Linked DNA regions of Homo sapiens. The protein of the gene in region 1 purifies or fractionates together with the protein of each later gene. This does not show direct contact. Each region holds a gene or a part of one and is shown in the gene's direction. Other genes may lie near its edges.

Evidence for each region. Proteins that work in one complex are often made in the same cells at the same time.
Region 2: the proteins of RALGPS2 (region 1) and SIPA1L1 purify together in Homo sapiens (affinity purification with mass spectrometry, with the first as the bait; one large-scale study listed by BioGRID). This does not show direct contact.

Annotation. Positions count from the first base shown.
Region 1 is NC_000001.11:178,919,691-178,922,396, forward strand, and holds the end of RALGPS2 (ras-specific guanine nucleotide-releasing factor RalGPS2), read left to right. Parts: 3' UTR 1-2,150; downstream 2,151-2,706. UniProt on the Homo sapiens protein: Guanine nucleotide exchange factor for the small GTPase RALA. May be involved in cytoskeletal organization. May also be involved in the stimulation of transcription in a Ras-independent fashion.
Region 2 is NC_000014.9:71,669,819-71,673,475, forward strand, and holds part of SIPA1L1 (signal-induced proliferation-associated 1-like protein 1), read left to right. Parts: intron 1-1,300; coding exon 1,301-1,874; intron 1,875-2,529; coding exon 2,530-2,804; intron 2,805-3,657.

The DNA of each region.
Region 1 (2,706 bases):
GAAAATCAATAGTAATGGGTTCCATCCATTAGCTTTTTAAATGAATAGATCTGGTATTGATTTCCTTCCTGTTTTTTTGAGGCACATTCCTTTACAACCAGTGTTTAAACCACCACGTAATCATCTTCTGCAAACAAGGGGTGCCAGTGTTGCCTAACAGAAGATAATCTTTAATAAAGCAAATCCTCTGCTTCAAAGGTTTTTGAAATAATTGGATCCCTTTTTGAAAAGGAAGATGAGTTTAACTGTGTCCAGGTGGAGTAATAGTACTGCTGTTGCATGAATAGATGATACAAAGCAAGTGATGAGGTTGGTATGACTTCTTTAGTGACCTTTTAGGGTTTGCTTTTATTTTCCTCTCTTTTTTGTATTATTTCTTTCAAACATAGTAAATATATGATTTTACAGCCAAAGTGGTATTCTGTTTTTTCTAAGCTTTGAGATACAAATATTGCTATTTAATCACATTGATGATGAATTACTTTCCATGTGAACCTTCTCAAAATGATTTAAGTACCTTTGATTTTGCTCCCCTAAAAATGGCTTGTGTCTAAAGTGACATTTTTTTCCCTATTTGGAGGGTTCTAATGAAAGAGATCCAGGCATAAAAACTCTTTTGCTTATTGAAAGCAATTTGATTACACCTATGTTTCAGGTTATAGTGGGGAGAAAATTTGGTCAGTGCCTTATTATTTGAAGAGCAATTTTAGGGCATCAAGTATGACAATAATCATGTGCCCTCTTGCTCCTCTTATTTCAGGAGTGTGTGCTATCCCTCTCTCCACCAGCTTAATCTTTCTCACCCCAAGTCTAACAAAGTCTTTACAGAAACCTCTGTAGGTGATTGTTGCAGTCTTCCTTGGTTTTTGAGTCTTTTTAAACAAGCTCCTACCCTGCTTCTATCCTTTTAGAGTAGGAGATTAAAAATAAACCCACCCCAGTCAACCTTTAGATAAGCACTCTTAAAAACAAATTTGAAGAGCACTCTTCAGCCAAGTTCATTTTTATTTTGTTGTTGATGTTTTGAGCATACATTTAATTGTAAGGCCTTTTGGAAAAGCCCTAAAAGAATAAGATACAACCAGAAATATTTGAGTTTTGTTAAATGTACTGAAATCTTGTAATGAAAATCCCTTTGGCCAGAAATGAGATTTATTTCCATTTATTTTTACATTTAAGTAACACTCAAAACAAACAAGTAGTCACTTAACCTGCCAGTTATTATTTTCTTGAAAATATACAAGAAAGTAAAAATATCTCTAATATATAAGTTAAAGGAAAGTTAAGAGACTAAGCTAGTTTTTTCAGTGAAAGCAAAGTTGGAAATATTTTGCTTCTCTCAGATTATTGGAAGACCTAGAGCTACTGGATGTTAACCTGAATCAAGATGTTCTTTTCACATTTTTTTAAAGGGCTAGTATGTTCCAGAGTAGGCAAGTAGTCATTCAAGCCAAATGAAAGAGTTAACTGGTCCTTGAGGAGTGTTAGCAAAATTTAAATTTTGACCCTGGCCATTTGTACTACAGAAGTGATTATGGGATTAAAAGAATACATAATTACAGTGTTTTGGGATTGGGCTCTTTTTTTTCTTAATAGAAAAGCAGAAACTTCATAAATAATAGCTGTGCTTTAGATACCAGATAACAAATATTGTTTCCCCTGAAGATATGACCTACTAGAACTACTCACATATATAGTCCAATAATTACTGACTTAATAGGTATGGTAAAATAGCTGATAATAAGTCAGACTCTCAAGAGTTTCTGTACCTTGATTATTGACAAATTCATTGTTTTACATCCTACTAAAGAACATGTGTGTGGGGAGGGGGTGGGGAACTGGTTCACAACATAATCTGAAGGAGATCAAACATCTGTAAGGACAGGTACCCAGTGATGATAATATATCTGAAAACACAAGCCATTTTTATTCTTTATCCCAATTAACTTGAGGTACTCTAATGATGAAGCACTCGATTGCACTATGACCTCCTTGAGTGATGTGCAGCTTGGTTCCTCTCTCACTTTTTGTTTCTTTTTAATATGCAAATGTGAGTGTGCGATCTTCAGTGTGTCTGCATAAGCTAACTTAAGATGAATTTAAGTACAGTTTTCTGAAATATTTCTATTGAAATAAATTACTTAAAATTATAGATTGGGTGAGGATGTTTTTGTTACTGTATTTGCATTTTTATCATGAACTTTTAAGGTGCAAATAAACTTTAAGTTGATTTTTTTCCCCTTTCTAAGGTAGTCAACAAGGCTATTGTTGGTGCAGGGAAAGCTCTGAAAAAACTTTAGTCACTCTTCTCTAGCCCAAGACAAGAATGTGCCACCTCGCATGTGGACAAATGGGGTTGTGGGGAATAGAGAGTAAGGGCATAACATTTCCAACTACATCTCCCACTCTGAGTATGTGATACGATAGGAGTAGTCCCCAAAGAGGCTCTCTTTGCTAATACATAACATTTTTTTCTTTTTACCATTTCTGAAAACAATCCATATTCGAGACCATGGAGCTTTAAATTGGAAGAAGTACAGAAATACCTGTGTGGAGTCTCCTGTAGGCTATTGTCTGGGTGTTGGTTATGCTTGAGAATTCCACGTTAGCTTAGCCTCTGCATGGTTTAGGAACCCCCAGCCAGGAAAAGCCCAATATTTTGGCAAATTATAATTCAGTTTTCAGCAGTTTTCTCACCTCCATAGT
Region 2 (3,657 bases), on another chromosome or scaffold:
AGCATGTAGCTTTTCCATTCCACCAGAAATATAATTTGCCTCCTGAGGTTGCTGATTTTTATTTTTCTTATTTTCACAAGAAATAACTATTTCTTGAAAAACAAAGCTGAATATCTTAAAGCAAACCCTTCCTAAAGAAAAAAAAGTGAAACAGAGCTCTTCAATTTTATTTGAAAGATGCATACTCTCTGATGATGCCATTTCTATTCCAAGAGTTCAGAAGAAACCGATTTTTTTATTGTTTCCCTAATACTAAGTATAATTGCATAATTTGTTCACTTTTAATTTGGAAAGAGCGATCTTCGATGTGTTAGAATCATTTCCAGTCATGTCAAACTTTACTAAAATCTTGGGAAATGATATAAAACACTCAACCTCTCTATTTCTATATCAACAACTTCCTTTGTTGTTTTAGGAGAAACTTACTTTTTTTCCTTTTGAGGTTAAAAATAATAAGTTATTACAAATGTTCATATGATCCTTTTCTTAGGCCCAATTTTAGGAATATATAGTCAGAAGAAATGACTGGAACAGGCTTTCTTATATCAATCTTGCTTAAAGGAATGGGAGAAGGAAAATATTTTTCTTAGAAATAGATTATCAGAATAAAATACCAAAAGGACCAAGGAATAGCTCAGTTTAAAAATATGATTTTAAAGCGTTGTTGCTATTACATAAAGATTCTCATACTATTACTCAGATTCCAATTTTCATTTTAAAATTATGCTTTTAATCTGGTTGCATAATGCCTCACACTTAGGCCAACAAATACTAGTTAAGTTTTATTGAAATTTAATTCATTTCTTTTATGGCATGCATCTTCTGATATTTTCAATGTAAGCTGTCTGCTTATAGCCATCATATCTAAAATGGAGAACACATTTGTGTTCTCACAGAATGTATGCTTGTTCTGAAAGATGATGTGGTTACAGTAACCTCCCTTGAAAACAGTTAGTAGGTATTTAAAATGTCTTACACAGAATATTACAGTAAACCTATTTTTTTTCATGGAGTTTTGGTCAGTTTCCTGTCTGGTAAAAAAAAAGTTAATAGTGTTAGCTTTTGGGATTTTGGGAGGTTTGTTTTTGGCCTAGAAAAAAAATTATGTTGTGTAAATCCTAAATGCGGTAGAATGAAAAAATATACTCGTATTAAGCAGAAATGTGTGTTGTTTCTCATGGAAAAATAAGCAGCTATTTTGTATCTGAGGTACATCTTTGTCTTTGAGAAAGTATATTTTATTCTGATGTTGTGAGACTGAGAAATACTGACGTGGCTCTCTTTGATCTTTGTCTCTCAGTGTGGCTGTTACCAGGTCCAGAGATGTGCCTTCCTTTGGGCCTCCCATTCCTAAAGGGGTCACTTTCCCTAAGTCAAATGTGTTCAGGGACTTCCTTTTGGCGAAAGTGATTAATGCAGAAAATGCTGCTCATAAATCGGAGAAGTTTCGGGCCATGGCAACTCGGACCCGCCAGGAATACCTGAAAGATCTGGCAGAAAAGAATGTCACCAACACCCCTATCGACCCTTCTGGCAAGTTTCCGTTCATCTCTCTGGCTTCCAAGAAGAAGGAAAAGTCTAAGCCATATCCAGGAGCCGAGCTCAGCAGCATGGGGGCCATTGTATGGGCAGTCCGGGCTGAAGACTACAACAAGGCCATGGAACTAGACTGCCTTTTAGGGATCTCCAATGAGTTCATTGTGCTCATTGAACAGGAAACAAAGAGCGTGGTCTTCAATTGTTCCTGTAGAGATGTGATAGGGTGGACTTCAACTGACACCAGCCTCAAAATCTTCTATGAACGAGGAGAATGTGTTTCAGTGGGTAGTTTTATTAACATTGAGGAGATCAAAGAGATTGTCAAAAGGTTGCAGGTGAGTCTCTCCTTCCTCTTCCTTACATGCAGTTTCTCTTTCATAAAGTTTTCAATACAGACTAGAGCCAAGTTACTGAACCTTGTGCTCTGTTATTAGCTCCTCTGAAAACTCCCTTGATGTGTGAAGCAAACAGAGTTTATCTCATGCTTGTGTTTTCCATGGATGTTTCGGAAAAGTAGAACAAATTGGGGAAGACACATTTACTCTGTGTGTGTGTGTGTGTGTGTGTGTGTGTGTGTGTGTGTGTGCGTTCATGTTCAAAACCCATTTGCATGTGACCTGTTCCCTGGTGCTGCAGTCCAGTCATCTGGTGGTGGTGTTGAAAAGAATTGCTTGAGTATCTGCTGCCTTGAATTTTACAAAGGCTAAATGAGTAGCAGTATATGGTTTCTATTTACTGCCAGCTCCCTGTAGGTCTCTGGTAGAGGTTTCCTTGTAACTTCAGGGAAGCCGTTGAGCTTTTTGGATGCAACAAGTATATTCCTTTTGGCCTAATGAATAGGAGATTAGTGAAGAGGAAATAACCAGACTGCTCTTCAGCTGGCAATAAGGTATTCAGAACTAACCCTGCTTGCAATGATTTTCCAGTTCCATGTCCACCACTTAATACCCTATTGCTTTAAACCACAGTATCTTTTATTTCCTTGTCTAGTTTGTTTCAAAAGGCTGTGAATCGGTGGAGATGACTCTGCGAAGAAATGGGCTAGGACAGCTTGGCTTCCATGTCAACTATGAGGGCATTGTGGCGGATGTGGAGCCCTACGGTTATGCCTGGCAGGCAGGGCTGAGGCAGGGCAGTCGCCTGGTGGAGATCTGCAAGGTGGCGGTAGCCACTCTGAGCCATGAGCAGATGATCGACCTCCTGAGAACATCTGTCACGGTGAAGGTTGTCATCATTCCCCCGCATGATGACTGCACCCCGCGGAGGTAGGTCTGAGGAGACAGCTGTGGGCCTGAGACTCGAGTGCAGGGTTTGTGTACCATGTAGAACATCTCTTAGCAGGTAGTGGAGTAGGGTGTTGTGAAGAACAATAGGTTACATGTGATGCTGAATGTTTCATCCATGGAGTCTGACTCAGGACGAAGCTCCCTTTCAGTGTGTGGTGACAGCAGCTGGAAAGAGTGACTAAATGGGACCATTCCCAGGATTTACATCACTGGATTTATAAAGTTGCCATGACAGATAGAGAAGTCTGGTAATATCTATCTTAAGAATTTTCCACTGGGAGCTGAGAAACATTGAACACATTGAACATTAAAAGACACTCAACATCTCAAATTGTCAGATTGCTTTTCTTCTATGTTCCATGATGCTCTTATTCTCTTCTCTCTCCTAATTGCTGCCCAAAACTCAGCAATTGTTTGGACCTTTGCTGTCTCAGTCTGGCAGCTGCTTTCCTAACTGTATCTGCATGTGCTAGGGTTTGGCTTCAGGTGAGCTGCCCCTGCTCATGGTGCTTTGGCATTTTGGTTCCTAGTCTTTTCCAGAAGGGAAAACCTAAGAGCTCCCTGCCCCACCCAACCCCCCACAGCTCCTGCCAAGCCAGCAGCACTGTTGAAAATTTAATTTCTCTGTCTCTGGGGAGGTTTATTGGTGGAAGAAATTTAATCAACTGTTTATTTTCTCCTTTGGACATGCACATGCTATTTTTGCTAGTTTTTAAGATCTCTCTTTTTAGTTTATGCCATTATTTTCTAAGAATTTCTCTTAAGCTTTGGCAATTGATTCTTAGGCTTTCTAAAGCCAAGACAGTGTTCTGTGTCCTATTTTGCCACTAAG